Regions from separate parts of the Homo sapiens genome. Here region 2 is linked to region 1. The links come from fine-mapping of genetic effects on gene expression. Tissue or cell type: whole blood. Region 1 holds a variant in brackets; the other region holds the start of a gene. All regions are shown on one strand. Distances are from middle to middle.

The links. PIP is the estimated chance that this variant, and not a neighbour inherited with it, causes the effect.
Region 2: it holds the start of ZMYND15, and the variant in region 1 is fine-mapped to the expression of ZMYND15 in whole blood (TOPMed, PIP above 0.99).

The regions. Positions count from the first base shown.
Region 1 is chr17:4,709,911-4,717,910 of GRCh38, reverse strand. ARRB2 (arrestin beta 2) reads right to left here and starts at 7,279. Exons shown (of 15, transcript NM_004313.4): 1 at 7,167-7,279; 2 at 2,868-2,898; 3 at 1,878-1,938; 4 at 1,720-1,764; 5 at 1,303-1,499; 6 at 635-694; 7 at 159-226; 8 at 1-23. The coding sequence starts at 7,189. RefSeq lists enhancers at 194-363, 2,780-2,849, 7,492-7,661 and a silencer at 7,033-7,562. The variant A/T (reference allele first, on the strand shown) is at 4,920.
Region 2 is chr17:4,735,776-4,743,775 of GRCh38, reverse strand. ZMYND15 (zinc finger MYND-type containing 15) reads right to left here and starts at 3,943. Exons shown (of 14, transcript NM_001136046.3): 1 at 3,726-3,943; 2 at 2,636-3,257; 3 at 1,960-2,194; 4 at 1,706-1,861; 5 at 1,285-1,445; 6 at 321-473; 7 at 1-9. The coding sequence starts at 3,227. It overlaps CXCL16 (C-X-C motif chemokine ligand 16), which reads left to right and starts at 3,848. Exons shown (of 6, transcript NM_001386809.1): 1 at 3,848-4,515; 2 at 4,856-4,994; 3 at 5,286-5,368. The coding sequence starts at 4,437. RefSeq lists a silencer at 3,757-3,976 and enhancers at 3,525-4,429, 4,430-5,335.

The sequences.
Region 1 (8,000 bases):
GGATCACCAGCCGCACAGAGTTCCTGGGATCAGAGTAGGGGCAGGAGGGGTCATTCCTCACACACCCCAACCCTACTCCTCCCCCGCACGGGGCCTGGGCTCCTGGAAGCGGGGAGGAAAGCCTCCTCTTACACCACAGAGGAGGTCACTTCCCTTACCTTTTGTGGCTTTTCTCTTCTAGTGATTTAGCACAGAAGGCTCGAATCTCAAAGTCTACGCCGCAGGCCTCGGGGAGGGGAGAAAAGGCCACATCTTACCGGAGGCTCCCGCCACCATCACTGCCCTTTCTTCCTCCCCCTTCCCTCCTCTCGGGCAGGGACTCTTGCCTCATTGTGGTCTCACGACCCTGGGGACTAAGTCTTCTTCCTCTCCAAAGCCCAGAACCTGGCAGAGGCTTGGTCATGGTAGTGCAAGGGGAGCCCCCATCCCCAGATCCATGCGGGTCCACAGAGCAGGAGGCAGTGTCATGCGTGCACAATGACCACCACATACGCCCCACTTCCACGGGGGACACTGGCCTACCCTCGGCCCCACCCTGGCATCTCGACAGTTCACCCTCTGGCTCAGCTGTGCCTCCAGGCTCCTGCTGGCCCATGTCCTGCCCTAGGAGCCCTCAGAGCTGTTCCTCCCGTACCTTTCCTGTATCCTCTGGGCCTGGCTGCAGTGTGACGGAGCATGGAAGATTCTGGGGTATCTGTGGCGGAGGAAGGAGAAGACTTCAGTTCTTCCAGAAAGCCCCCAGATCTTCCTCCAAATCTCAACCTAAGAGGCTGGAGACGCTGGGTGTGGTGGCTCATGCCTGTAATCCCAACACTTTGGAAGGCTAAGGTGGGCGGATCACCTGAGGTCAGGGGTTCCAGACCAGCCTGACCAACGTGGCAAAACCCCATCACTACTAAAAATACAAAATTAGTCGTGTGTGGTGGTGCGTGCCTGTAATCCCAGCTACTCGGGAGGCTGAGGCATAAGAATCACTTGAACCTGGGAGGCGGAGGTTGCAGTGAACCAAGATTGTGCCACTGCACTCCAGCCTGGGCGACAGAGCGAGACTTTGTCTCAACAACAACAAAAAAGAGGCTGGAGAAAGGACTCCTGGGGATGAGAAGGGAAGAAGGAAGGGGCCCCAGAGAGGAGGCAGATAATCAAGGGCTTCCTGAATGCACTGGGACCCTGAAGGGAAGTGGATCTAGGGTCCCTGCCTCACTGTTTCTTCCAGATCTGCCCACAGCAGTGCCTTACCCCCACCCCAGACACAGTCCCAGCCCCAGCCCCCTGGCCCTCAGAGGGCAGGGGCATCCTCACGGTGAAGAAGAAGGGGTGGGCATGCTGGCCCAGCTTCCTCAGCAGCCGGTCCTGCAGGCGGGTGGGGGGCCGGGGTGGGTTGGGCACCGGGGGGAAGGCCTGGTAGGTGGCGATGAACAGGTCTTTGCGGAAGGACAAGCCCAGCACATCCAGGTCTTCACGGCCATAGCGGAAGGCGCAGGTGAGGGTCACAAACACTGGCAAGGGAGGGTGAGATGAGTGGTCAGGAGCCCCACTTCCCCAGTCCCCTGGCACCTAGCAGCCGCTGCTCCTCCCTCAGCAGCATAAGACTTGCCTGAACCCTACTCCTGGCTTCCACCTCCAGCCTCCATCTCTCTGGGGCGCCCTTCCAAGGCCAGCCCATTTCACTTCCCTAGCCCCCACTTTCCCTGGGCCCCCTGGACTTGGGGCCAGTACCTTTGCGGTCCTTCAGGTAGTCAGGGTCCACAAGCACCACGCCATCTAGGAGGGGGACACACCAGCTCACTTCCTGAAAGGGCCGCTCCCCGCTTTCCTGGGCCCGGGAACTTCTTCCCCTCTTGGGGAACGAGCTGTCCCTTTCTGGGAAAACTTACCTACAGGGTCCACTTTGTCCAGGTGATCTACGAAGTCCCGCTTGCCCAAGTACACGGTGAGCTGAGGATGTCAAGGGGTCACAGGGGAGATTGGGGAGGATGGTGACAGGGCATCGGAGCCCTCAAAACTGGCTGCCCTGCCCGGGGATCTCCAGGCTGGGCTATCAGGAAGGAGTTGTTCCAGGTTTCCTCCCAATAGTGTTGGAAAGTGAGGGTGGTGGCGTTTCTCAGACTAGTGGACCTTTAGGCTTTTGAGCTGCTCCTTTATCTCTGCACACCTCTGCCCACCAGCCCGGTGTGTGTGTGTTTGTGTGTGTGTGTGTGTGTGTGTGTGTGTGTCCTCAGCCAACCAGTCAGGTGTGTGTGTGAACATGTATGTGCATGTGTGTCTGTGTGTGTCCTCAGGGAGGACTCAGCCCAACCAGCGAGGTGTGTTTGTGTGTGTCCGTGTGTGTGTGTGTGTGTCCGTGTGTGTGTGTTTGCATCCTCAGGGAGGACTCAGCCCAACCAGCCAGGTGTGTGTGTATGTGTGTATGTGTGTGTGTGTCTGTGTGTGTGTGTGTTTGGATCCTCGGGGAGAACTCAGCCCAACCAGCCAGCTAGAGAGCAGCTGCCACCCTCACTAGGTCCCCTCAAGGGGCTCTAGGATAAATAGGCCATAGCCCGGGGGCTGTTAGGTTTTCCCAGCCCCACGCACCTTGGGTTGGCTCCTAGGAGGGCTACAGGCACATGGCTTGCTTTTGGCCTCCTCCTCTGTGGTCTTGCTTGGGGACCCAAGCCTGCCCCACCCAGCCCTGTGGCTGGCTCAGGCTGAGCAGCCTCTGCGGCAAGGGGCTTCAGGAGGGAAGGAAGTCGGCGCTTAGCTGTCACAGGAAGTGGGGAGCTAGGGGTTGGGGATCATCTTTGGGTAGGTTGGGGATCGTCTAGGGGAAGGCTGGGCTTTGTTGGGGCCCAGGGAGGGTCAAAAGGGTAAGTGCTGTGGAGACTCACCTTGCAGTTAGGGCTCGACTTCTTGAAGACCCTAACAAAACAGAAAGGGAAACCCCACTGCCTCCCTCAGACTCAGCAGGGACCCCACACCAGGACCCTCTCCCTCCCAGGCCTGAGAAGCAGTGCTCACCCAGGCCTCCTGCCTGAGGCTGTGGGGCTTTGCCCAGCTCTGCCCCTTTCCCCTTCTTCCCGGAAGGTCCTTCCTATTTCTAACGTGGTGGCAAGGGGAACCCTTCTTCCCGGAAGGTCCTTCCTATTTCTAACGTGGTGGCAAGGGGAACCCTTCTTCCCGGAAGGTCCTTCCTATTTCTAACGTGGTGGCAAGGGGAACCCTTCTTCCCGGAAGGTCCTTCCTATTTCTAACGTGGTGGCAAGGGGAACCCTTCTTCCCGGAAGGTCCTTCCTATTTCTAACGTGGTGGCAAGGGGAACCCTTCTTCCCGGAAGGTCCTTCCTATTTCTAACGTGGTGGCAAGGGGAAATGCCCCTTGTCTTGTCCACCCTCATTCGTCCCCTTCCCTCCCCAGTAATGGCCACTGGTTGCCCTAGGAACCACCCAGGCTCTTCCCAGAGGACCCGAATGGGCAGGTAGCCACAGTGTCTGGATAAGACCTAACCATCTTTCCATCTGGTCTACAGCTCTGACAGCTGGAGCATATAGGAGAGCAATGACCCTGGCCTTTGGCCCTCAGATAGTTTCTACCACAGGCCCTACCCAAGTTCGACTCTACTCACCTCCAACTGTCCCCAACTCCGACCTCAAGAGCTTAAAAGCCTATTTGTCTTTTAAGGCCCAGCCTTTAGGAAGCTGACCCAGCCCAGACCCTGGTCGCTCCTTGTTTTGGGTTCCTGTCACACCTTGTTTATGTTTTACTTGTGGTGTGGTAGCACACAAGGATAGTTAGCTCCCTCCCTCCTCAGACTGTGAGCCTCAGAGGCCTTATTAATTTAGGCATCTCCAGCACAATGCCAGCCATATCATGAAGATGGTAATGCTGCTAACATTTCAGAGTGACTACTCCATGCCCAGCACTGTTCCAAGTGTTTCAAATGTGTCATCTCTTGTAATACTCTGTTTTTTGAGACAGAGTCTCACTCTGTTGCCCAGGCTGGAGTGCAGTGGTGCGATCTCAGCTCACTGCAACCTCCGCCTCCCAGGTTTAAGTGATTCTCCTGCTTCAGCCTCCTGAGTAGCTGGGATTACAGGAGTGAGCCACCATGCCCGGCTATGTTTTGTATTTTTTTTTTTTTTTTGGAGATGGAGTCTCACTCTATCACCAAGGCTGGAGTAGAGTGGCACGCTGTCAGCTCACTGCAACCTCCACCTCCTGGGTTCAAGCGATTCTCATGCCTCAGCTTCCTGAGTAGCTGGGATTAGAGGTGCCTGCCATCATGCCTGGCTAATTTTTTTTTTGAAACGGAGTCTCACTCTGTCGCCCAGGCTGGAGTGCAGTGGTGCGATCTCGGCTCACTGCGACCTCTGCCTCCCGGGTTCACGCCATTCTCCTGCCTCAGCCTCCCGAGTAGCTGGGACTACAGGCACCCACCACCACGCCCGGCGAATTTTGGTATTTTTAGTAGAGATGGGGTTTCACTGTGTTAGTCAGGATGGTCTCAATCTCCCGACCTCGTGATCCACCTGTCTCAGCCTCCCAAAGTGCTGGGATTACAGGCGTGAGCCACCACGCCCGGCCGCTAATTTTTATATTTTTAGTATAGATGGGGTTTCCCCATGTTGGCCAGGCTGATCTCAAACTCCTGACCTCTAGTGATCCGCCCGCCTCAGCCTCCCAGAAGGCTGGGATTACAGGCTTGAGTCACTGTGTCTGGCCTGTATTTTGTATTTTTTTAGTAGAGACGAGGTTTCCCCATGTTAGCCAGGCTGATCTCCAACTTCTGACCTCAGGTGATCCACCCGCCTCAGCCTCCCAAAGTGCTGGGATTACAGGCGTGAGCCACCGTGCCCGGCCTTAGGTTGCAGTGAGCTGAGATTGAGCCACTGCACTCCAGCCTGGGTGACAGAGCAAGACTTTGTCTCAAAAAATAAATAAAT[A/T]AATAAATTAATTAAATTAAATAAAACCACCCAGTGATGGAGCTCCTAATATCTCTGTTTTACAGGTGAGGAAACTGAGGCAGAGAGAGGTCAAGTGTTTCAAGGTCACAGAGGGAGTAAATGGTGGGAATTAATAGAAACCAAGGCAGTCTGGCTCCGAGTCCATCCTCTCGATCAATATTACACTATCTGTCTCTGCAGTTGGCATAAATAGTTTGTTGAATTGAAGGTTATTTGCTTTCCAGTTGCTGAAACAATTTAAGCCTGGACTCCACCCATTGCTGGGAGGGTAAGGAAGTGTTTGGCAACCCCAGTGATCTGGCCAATTGTGGGCCTGTTCTTTGAAGCACCACCTTACTCCTTCCAATCCACTCTGCCTCAGCAGTGATCCCTGGAAAGGATCCTCAGATAGATAGCAGAAACGTGAAATCCTGCCAACTAGCCCATCCCTCTTCCAAGTCTACCACCCCATTCCCAGAGGACCCCAATGGGCAGGTTACCACAGTGTCTGGGTAAGACCTAACCATCTTTCCATCTGGTCTCCAGCTCTGACAGCTGGAGCATATAGGAGAGCAATGACCCTGGCCTTTGGCCCTACATGGTTTCTACCATAGGCCCAGTTTCTGCTACAACTTCACTTGCCCCTTCTTCCCAGAAAGCCAAGCTGTCCAAAGGTTGTAAGGCAAAGGGTATGGAGGGCCCCAGGTATTCCTAACCAATAAAAGAGAATACACATCGATATGGTAGCCGCTAGAATAAACACCCTATCTTTCATCCCAACTTGGGAGCTGAGTGCCGTGGCATCATCCAGGCTCTCCCTCCCCTTTGCTTCTGGTTTTCCTCTTTGTCCCAGGGTGTCCTCCCATTAGGAGCCCTGGCACAGGGCTGTGACAGCCACAATCAGTGGGCCAACTGGAGTGTGGTTCTGGGGCAATTGCCCTGGAGCAGCTGCAAGGCACTTGCCCTTTGGATCCTAACCCAGCCACCTCCTGCCAGGCTGGGGAGGAGCAGCGTGCATATACTAGGCTGGCCAAGGAGGCAGAGTGTGGGGATGACCAGGGAGGTGCCCAGTGGGAGCAGGGGTAGCTGAAGCAGATGTCCTTTCACACTTCCTGCTATTCGCTCCATTTCCTGTGGCCCAGAATTTCATGGGGGTGAGGGAAATTGTGCCAAGTTAGCAGTCTCCTTTGGTCCATCCGTCCCACTCCCTGAACCACATGACGGAAATCAGGGGCCTCCCACAAGTCAGCAACTTCCCCTTTCTCTGGGATGTTTAAACCCTGATCCAGGAGACGGATCATCTCTCTGATGATCTCTTTCTGATGCTCGTCTACTTGATGCTCAGAAACCCGGGTTCTCATACTCTATAGGTTGGAAGTGGGGTTGATATGATGTTTTGCAGAGCAAGCCAGAGCTCAGGACCAATTCCCTATTCCTGATACCCTCTGAGTTGAGGCCTACAGCCCCAACCTTTTCGTCTTTTGCTCCCGCTCCCCTGCGACTCAGGCATCCACCCCTTGCCCCTTGGGGGTGTTGAGTCACAACAGGAAGTGGATTTTGCTAGAGACCAAAAAAGAGAACTCGGGGTATCAGTGGAAGGAAAGAGCCTCGATTGCACAGAAAACATCCGGGGAGTGGACGCGCGCCCAGGGTGAATACTGCCTCCCCCACCCCCAGAGAGAGGGATACGATCTAGTTTCAGGGAGGGTCGCCACGCACTCGGCTCCCCCAAGATGAAGCTGTTGCTCCTGGCAACCCAAGGGAAGGTAGAAGTTTGGGTGAGGAGCCACCCGGCCCTCGGGACAGGTGTGGGCAGCGCGACTACCTGGGGGATATTGGATAGGAGGCTTTCCATTGGCTTGGCGCGAGTCTGGAGTGGATCCCCCCCGTCCCGGCATCCAGCCTCCCCGTACACGACCCCTCGGGGCCAGCCACCTGCTCCTCCTTCCTCCATCCCTGCATCGCAGCCTGCACGGGAGAGCCCAGTAGTCTGGCCCCACATCCCTGCGAGAACCCCGACACCGGTTTTTCTGATCCCCCTCAGGCCTCGCTTTCTGCAGGGGCCCGGGCATTTCCCCCCCACCCTCATTATCCTCGAGGACCTGCGCGTGCGGCCCCGGATGGCTGTCCCTAGGGACCCAGGCGTCCGGCCCCCAGATCCTCTCCGCTGCGCCCTCGTCTGGGACCGTCCCAGCCCCCGCCCCGAGCCGCCGCCCATGCCCCGCCGCGTGGCCCCACCTCCCTTACCTGGTCCCGGGTTTCTCCCCCATGGTGCGCGCGCCCGCCGCCCGCTCGGTTCGCGGCTCGCTCGCAGCCTCCTCGCCCGCTGCCAAGATCCCTGCTCCTCCCCGCGCCAATGCGCACGCGCGCCCTCCGCGCTCTCGCCTCTTCCCCCTCCCTCCCGGCCCCGCTCTGGTCTTGGGGAACCGGGGCCAGATGCGTCAGCCGGATCGCGCGCGCCGCGGCGCTGCCCGCCCTCTCCTAGCAGACACGCGGGGCCATTGGCTCCGCCCCCAGCCCTTCGCGCTCCTTCCCAGCCTGGTAGCCCTCCCCCGCGCGCGGGGCCAGCTCCCACTCCTCCCGCCCATCTCCCCGCCCCGCTGCAACCCCTTGAAACCGATTGGACCCCCCTAAACCAAGGCGCCCGCCTTCCAGGGGATCTAAGTCTTTCGATTGGCCTTCGGCATCCAGAACCTGCAGGGGTCTCCTCCCCTTTGTTTGCTTTCTCAGTGGCGGTGGGGGCGACCGGGCTGCTGGGGGCGGTGGAATGAGCTGAAGCGCCGTCTGGGAAGGAGGATGGTGGGGGGGAACACGTGGGTGAGCGGTTCAATTGCGTGATGCTTGCTTCAGTGCGCGCCGCTCACCTGCTCCACTCGGAGCGTGCCGCCTTCTGTGGCCAGCCCTCCCGCTTCTTCACTGCAGCGTGTCAGCTCCTCCTGGTGTTTGCATTTGATCTTCGCAGGGTTCCCTTTTCCAATGTCTCTGACTATCCATCTCCTTCACCCACCCATCCCAGCTAACATCCACTCACTCACCCGCTCCCATCCATCGGTCCATCTATGGACCCATCCATCCGTGCCT
Region 2 (8,000 bases), 26 kb before region 1:
AGGGGTCTCCTGAGAGGATGAAAGAAGGAGGGGCCTGGGGTCAGGGAGACCCCCACCTGACCCATCTCTTTCTTCCTTCCAAAGGGGCTGTATTCCCTGAGACAGCCGCAGTAAGAGGAATGGGGGTTTGCATAGGGATGGGGTTTCTGGGTGGAGTTGGTAGGGGTGATTCCATTGAGGGCTGGGAAAGGCCTGAAATGGCCCTGGTGCTGTTGGTAGGGGTCAGTGTGTATGTGGAGGGATCATCTGGGACCCAGACAACTTCTTCCCAGTCCTTCCCTCTAGGCCAAGGGGCCCATGCCTGGAGAGACCCCACGCACCACCGCGAAGAAGGCTGAGGGATGGCGTGTTGCCTCGGGGGTGTCTGGAGAAGCCCGGGCCTGGAATCAGCATGCTGAGCTGGGTCCAATAGCCACGAGTGAGGCCCCGAGAGGCCAGGAAGGCCTCTTTGTTGAAGGTTTCACTGGTCACCTCTGGAGAAGGAGAAGGGGAGGAGTTGAGGTGCTGGGCTAGAACCCCAGACATTTTTTTTTTTTTGAGACAGAGTCTTGCTCTATCACCCAAGCTAGAGTGCAGTGGCGTGATCACGGGACACTACAGCCTCGACCTCTTGGACTCAAACGATTCTCCCACCTCAGTCTCCCGAGAATTGTGACCACAAGCGAGTGCACCATGCCTGACTAATTTTTTCTATTTTTTGTAGAGACAGAGTCTATGTTGCCCAGGCTGATCTCAAATTCCTGGGCTCAAGTTGGCCTCCCAAAGTGCTGGGATTACGGGTGTGAACCATTGCCCGGCCTAGAACCCCAGCCTTGAACTCTCCCTAGCCTCCCGCGAGGACCCTGGTTCTAAGTCTGGTTCCAGTCAGGCCGGGAACTACCATTTCTGAGTGCCTCCAGCGTACCAGGCACCAAGCCAAGATAATCCTTGTAACAATTCCATGGGCCTTCTCCGTATCCCTCATGAGGACACGGAAGCTTCAAGAAGTAAAGTGGTTTGTTTAAGGTCACACTGCAGTTAGTGGTGGAGCTGGGAAGCAAGTAAGTGTTTGAATCCCTGTCCCCCAATCCCTGCACGCTCTCAGGGACCCAGACACTCAGGCCTCGGCTTCAGAGACCCTGTCTCCAGCCCCAAACACCCAGCCCCTGCCCTTGTTCCAGGGATCTAGGCTCTAGCCCCAGACACTCAGCCTTCAACTGCAGGACCCTGTTCCCAGACATCTAATTCCCAGTCTCAAAGACCTGGTCCCAGTTTCCCCCAACCATTCTGACCTCCTTATGGTACCTGCGGTGTAGGTAAAAGGCAGGGTTGCCAGTTCTCCTGCCCGCTCCATGAAGGCTGCAAGCCTTGGGCACCAAAATCGGTGACTCACATCATCTGGGCACCGCTGCCAGTCAGCCCGGAGACAAGCCTCTCCACAATACAAGACAGCACTACACTGGGGGCTGGGGACACAGCGGGTGGTGGGCACCTAGTGTTAACCTCTGTAGGTCCTGTCTGCTGTTCAACTGCCCAGCAGCTGCCCATATGTCACTCGGTCTGTTTGTCTTACACCCTCTAACCGCCTGTAACAGTCTGTATTGTTTCCTCTGCATCTTCTCATGTCCCTGCCTCTCCTTCTGTCTGCTAGGCGCCCCCCACCACCCTGCCTTCCTTCTATTTGCCTATTGGGGTCTTCCTCTCCCCCAGCTTTGGGGCTGCTCACCAAGGTGTCAGCTTCGCTTCAAAGCTGTGCCTGTGACACACATGGCAGGTTCGAGCACGAAGGGAAGCAAAGGTGAAGCCTGGCCGGGGACCCCATGTCCGCATTGGGGTTTTGGCTAACTTCACACCTAGCCTTGGGACCAAGCTCTCCAGCTCTCTAAATGCAGTTGGGGGGGAGATGGCATCAGGCTGGAGGAGGTGCTTGGGAATCCAGGGCCCGAGTCCTCCCCAGCCTCAGATACCAGATTTCTATACCGATGCAGCCGGGCATCTCCCACAGTAAGCTGTCGGGGCTTTCGGGGATCCCCAGAGCCCATGGGACAGGCCATGCTGTGACAGAGGAGAGCATAGGCCCAAGGAGCCAGGTCCTTGGTCCCTGAGCCCCAGCTTGCGGTTCCCTGGGCTCCATCCACTAGCAGATCAATGCCCAAGATGGTGCCATGCTCATCCGTCACAAGTAAGAGACAGGAAACGTGCAGGGGGGCAGCCTCTGGGGAAAGAGGGAAAAGTTGAGGTGGTAGGGGGCAGCGAGAGACAAATGTGGTCAGGGTCAGGAGTACCAAACTCAAATACCTACGGGGCTAGGCAAGTAACCTCACTGAGTAAAGGGCTCTGGGTAGAGAGGGCACGCTCCTTCTAAAGGGGACAGCTGCTACAGAGGACCAGAATGCGCTGCCATGCAGAAATGTAGGCCCACTGTCAGAGCTTGAGATTTTTCTTGGGAATGTGTAAATCCAGACTTCTGGATACTTTTTTTCTTGCAATGTTTAAACATTAAATTAAAAAAAAAAACCCCACTGTGGGTCAATAAAAACACCTTTTCAGGCCAGATTGGCCTGAAGGCCAGCACTCAGAACTAGTGGCAGGGGAGGGCTTCCGAAGGGAGGATGGCTGGGCAAGGGGTAGGGCAGGGCCAGCCCTGGGTTCTTACCACTCCTCTGTCCCTTCCTCTTCTGGGGTCTTGTTTCGTTCTCCACCCTGTCCTCTCGGCAGCCATCCTTGCCACCTCCTGCCTCCCGGGCAGCCTCCTCTGACTCTCCTGGAGGGTTTGTTTCCTGGGGGGACTCCCTGCTGGTAGGGGCTAGCTCCCGGTCCTCCTCTGGTTCCACCTTCTCTGTGCTGCCTGCACCCCCGTCCTCTCTCTTCTCTTCTTCTTCATCTTCCTCCTCTTCCTCCTCCCCTTCCTCCCCATCCTCTAGGCTGACAAAGCTGATGTAGGGGCTCAGGTCTCGCAGGTGGAGTGGAGGGTTGTCTCCCAGGAGCCAGGCAGTCCCCAGGCCTGGTCCAGGACCTGGTTCTGCCCCTTGCCCCAGGCTGATGCCCACACTATGGTTGGGCAGGACATGGAGCACCCAAAGGGCAGGGTCCTGGGGTAGCCTTCTGATCTGGGCCTCCAGCTGCCGGCAGCGGCCCTCAAGGCTAGTCCCTACAGCTCCACGCTCTGCCACAAACTTTCGGAACCAGCCGAAGAGAAGGGCAGTGAAATCAAGGAACTCATCCCGGTATCCAGACACAAACTCCATGTCTTCAGCGGCACAGGGCCCCGGCCCAGACTGAGCAAAAGAAGGGATATATGGTGAGGGACAGGAGAGCAATGATGGAGTTTGGGGCTGGGTCACAAATTGAGGGAGAGGGTAGGTTTGAGAGTCACTTAGGGTTGGATCCGTGGATATGCTAGGAGCGGAGAAGAGGATTTTTCAGGGCTGAGGATGGGAGTTTAGGGAGGAAAATGGGGGCTGGACTTGAAAGTGGGTGACCAGGGTTGGAGAAGACTACTCAGGGATGAGATGGTATTTGGGGCTTAAAATTGGAGAGTTCACACCCTCAAAAGCAGAGTTTAAATTAAGGCTAGAGAGGAGAGAGGGCTAATCCTATCGGGAACGGTTTGGTGGGGAGGGAAGCATTTTGGATGCGTCTGTGGGGTATGGGAGTGGGAGCGAGGGGGTTCCCTGGGCTCGGATCTGCGTGGCGGGCAGCCCCGGTAGACCTAGCCCCTCCCGGCCGCCCCACTCCTCCGGTACCTGCAGCCGCCACCACTTTTCGAAGGTAAATACCTCGCGGTGGAGGGTGCGCGGGTGCGGTTGTGACGTCAGGGCTGCCCGAGCCCTCGCCGGCTCAGCGGGCGGCCACGCCCCCCGGGCTCGGTGCGTCCGCGGGTGGCTGCCCCGCAGGTGCGCGCGGCCGGGGCTGGCGGCGACTCTCTCCACCGGGCCGCCCGGGAGGCTCATGCAGCGCGGCTGGGTCCCGCGGCGCCCGGATCGGGGAAGTGAAAGTGCCTCGGAGGAGGAGGGCCGGTCCGGCAGTGCAGCCGCCTCACAGGTCGGCGGACGGGCCAGGCGGGCGGCCTCCTGAACCGAACCGAATCGGCTCCTCGGGCCGTCGTCCTCCCGCCCCTCCTCGCCCGCCGCCGGAGTTTTCTTTCGGTTTCTTCCAAGATTCCTGGCCTTCCCTCGACGGAGCCGGGCCCAGTGCGGGGGCGCAGGGCGCGGGAGCTCCACCTCCTCGGCTTTCCCTGCGTCCAGAGGCTGGCATGGCGCGGGCCGAGTACTGAGCGCACGGTCGGGGCACAGCAGGGCCGGGGGGTGCAGCTGGCTCGCGCCTCCTCTCCGGCCGCCGTCTCCTCCGGTCCCCGGCGAAAGCCATTGAGACACCAGCTGGACGTCACGCGCCGGAGCATGTCTGGGAGTCAGAGCGAGGTGGCTCCATCCCCGCAGAGTCCGCGGAGCCCCGAGATGGGACGGGACTTGCGGCCCGGGTCCCGCGTGCTCCTGCTCCTGCTTCTGCTCCTGCTGGTGTACCTGACTCAGCCAGGTTAGCCGGGGGCGGGGCAGGGGACCCAGATTCCCCTGTCACGGGAAGGGGGTGAGTTGGGGAGGGGACACGAGGCCCACGGAGTTGAGTGGATGAAGGCAGCGGGGACAAGAGGAAAGCCAGCCAGCCGCCTGGGGTTGGGGACAGAGGCCCGGGGACGCCTGGCTCCGGGCGGGATTATGGATGTTGTCGGGGGCGTGATGATGTGTGGGTTGAGCCTGGCGCTCTGACCCTGGGTCCACCGAGAGGCTGTCATGGGGCTGTGGATTGGATGCCAGGGAACAGCGGAGTGGGGACCCTGGGCCTGGGAATGGGTGCCGACCACCTCCGTCCCGCGCAGGCAATGGCAACGAGGGCAGCGTCACTGGAAGTTGTTATTGTGGTAAAAGAATTTCTTCCGACTCCCCGCCATCGGTTCAGTTCATGAATCGTCTCCGGAAACACCTGAGAGCTTACCATCGGTGTCTATACTACACGAGGTAATTTTACCTGCCTCTGCGAGGGCAGCGCCTGGGCGGCCCCTCCTTGCAGGTGCCTCCAGGACCCTCTCTGGTCCAGCCTGAACTCCTTCCCGGCTCACCGAGCCCCATCTCCGGGTTCCGTTTGCTCTCATTCCCCGAAACTTCATGACTCCGTCTCACCTACTGGGGAGTTTCCCAGTCCCAGGAGAAAGGGCTCTTTCTTGGTGGCAACTTCACGCCTCTGGAATGAGGAAGGAGCCGGGGAAGGAAAGAAGGCGCCGCAGCTAAGCCCAGGTCTCTCCTCCGCAGGTTCCAGCTCCTTTCCTGGAGCGTGTGTGGGGGCAACAAGGACCCATGGGTTCAGGAATTGATGAGCTGTCTTGATCTCAAAGGTGAGACTTTTCCACTGCTCTTCAGGCTCTGCCTCCAGGGCTTAGCAGCTTCCACCTGACAGTTTTCTTTACCTGAGCCTTTTCCCCTGGGGCCGCACATTCCTAGAACCTTCTTCTGATCCTGTCCAAAGTACTTAGACTCGAGTCCCTGTTTGCCAAACGGGGTGATCATTCACCATCACCTTCATGAGTTTTGCCAATTCATTCTACCACGTGTGCTATTGTCTACTTATTAATATTTTTCTTGAAATCAAAGTACTATTTTATTTTATTTTTTTGAGATGGAGTCTCACTCTGTCACCCAGGCTGGAGTGCAGTGGCACGATCTTGGCTCACTGCAACCTCTGCCTCCCAGGTTCAAGAGATTCTCCTGCCTCAGCCTCCTGAGTAGCTGGGATTACAGGCGCGCACCACCAAGCCTGGCTAATTTTTGTATTTTTAGTAGAGACAGGGTTTCACCATGTTGGCCAGGCTGGTCTCGAACTCCTGGCCTTGTGATCCACCCGCCTCGGCCTCCAAAAGTGCTAGGATTACAGGCGTGAGCCACCACACCTGGCCTATTTTTCTTTTCCAATATTTTATTATGAAAATTTACACATATACAAAAGTTGAAAGAATGGCACACTGAATATCCAGTGCCTCCACCTAGATTCTACAATTTTATTTATATATGTATATTTTACATATTTACATAAACATATATTTTACACTATCAATTTTACAGCAATTACACGATATTTGCTTTATTAAGTATCCATCTATTCATTCTTCTATCCATCATCCATCACCTTATTTCTTGATGCATTTCTTTTTTTTTTTTTTTTTTTTTTTTAATGGAGTCTTGCTCTGTCGCCCAGGCTGGAGTGCAATGGTGCCCTCAGCTCACTGCAGCCTCCGCCTCCCAGGTTCAAGCAATTCTCCTGCCACAGCCTTCCGAGTAGCTGGGATTGCAGGTGCCCGCCACCATGCCCAGCTAATTTTTGTATTTTTTTAGTAGAGATGGGGTTTCACCGTGTTGGTCAGGCTGGTCTCAAACTCCTGACCTCAGGTGATCCACCTGCCTCAGCCTCCCAAAGTGCTGGGATTACAGGTGTGAACCGCAGTGCCCGGCCTCTTGATGCATTTCAAGGCAGATTGTGGACATCATTGCACTTCATCCCAAGACATTTCAGCATGTATATTAAGTAGAGTTCAATATTTTAATGCTTTTTTTTCTTTTGAGTTCAAATTTACATACAATGAAATGAATTACTTTTAAGTGTGCACAAACTAGTTTTGAAAACTTAAGTAGAGGCCAGGACGGTGGCTCACTCCTGTAATCCTAGCTCTTTGGGAGGTTGAGGCCGGTGGATCACCTGAGGTCAGGAGTTTGAGACCAGCCTGACCAACATGGTAAAACCCCATCTCTACTAAAAATACAAAATTAGCCAGGCATGGTGGCATGTGCCTGTAATTCCAGCTACTCAGGAGGTTGAGGCAGGAGAATCACTTGAACCTGGAGGCGGAGGTTGCAGTGAGCCGAGATCAGGCCATTGCACTCCAGCCTGGGCAACAAAAAAAAAGAAAGAAAACTTAAATAGTAAATTATCCTAAGCAATAATATCTGTGAAGTCACAAGTTTGATGCATTGGTTATATTTTTCTCTTAAAATAAATATACAACCATTAAAATACAAAAGGTTCTTCCATGTCCTAGCTAAAGTTTTGTAGGATCTGTGTCATCCATACTGCCTTTAAGTCTGCCTAGACCTCTATGATTTCCTTTCATCCTCCCAGGAACCCTGGCCCTTGGTACTACAATTATCCTCATTTTACAGCTGGAAGATATCACTTCCGGAGAGGTTAGGGACAAGGGGTGAGGTTACACAGCTACTTGAGGTTACACAGCTACTTTACAGCAGAGCTTGGAATCCAACCCTGGTCTTCTGATTTCCCAGTTCATGACACCCACTTGTCTCGTGGTTCGCTCACTTCCTTGTCCCCTACCTTTTCCGTCTGTCATCTGCCTTCCTCTTCTGGCCTTCAGCGTGATAACCTCCCTGACTCACTCTTCCCTCTGTTGGAGCTCAGAACATGACACTCCAAAACATGGCACCTTGGTAATTACGAAAACAGCAGAAGTAAGTAGCTCACTCTGCTCTGTTTTTCTGTGAGAGCTGGCCATAAAGGAATTCTCTAACTTCACGTGGAAGTAGGTCATAGGCTCTCATTTCAGATGGGTCCTGCCCTATACTTGGAGGCCAAGAAGAATCTGGACAGGCCTTGCTGGTCCCCCACCCCCCATTTATTGCCATTAGATCATACCCTTTTTGTCCAATCATACTTCTTTTTTTTTTTTGAGATGGAGTTTCGCTCTTGTTGCCCAGGCTGGAATGCAGTTGTGCAATCTTGGCTCACTGCAACCTCCACCTCCTGGGTTCAGGCGATTCTGCCTCAGCCTCCCATGTAGCTGGGATTACAGGCACATGACACCATGCCTGGCTAATTTTGTATTTTTAGTAGAGACTGGGTTTCTCCATGTTGGTCAGACTGGTCTCGAACTCCCGACCTCAGGTGATCCACCCACCTCAGCCTCCCAAAGTGCTGGGATTACAGGCGTGAACCACCGCGCCCGGCCAATCCAATCATACGTC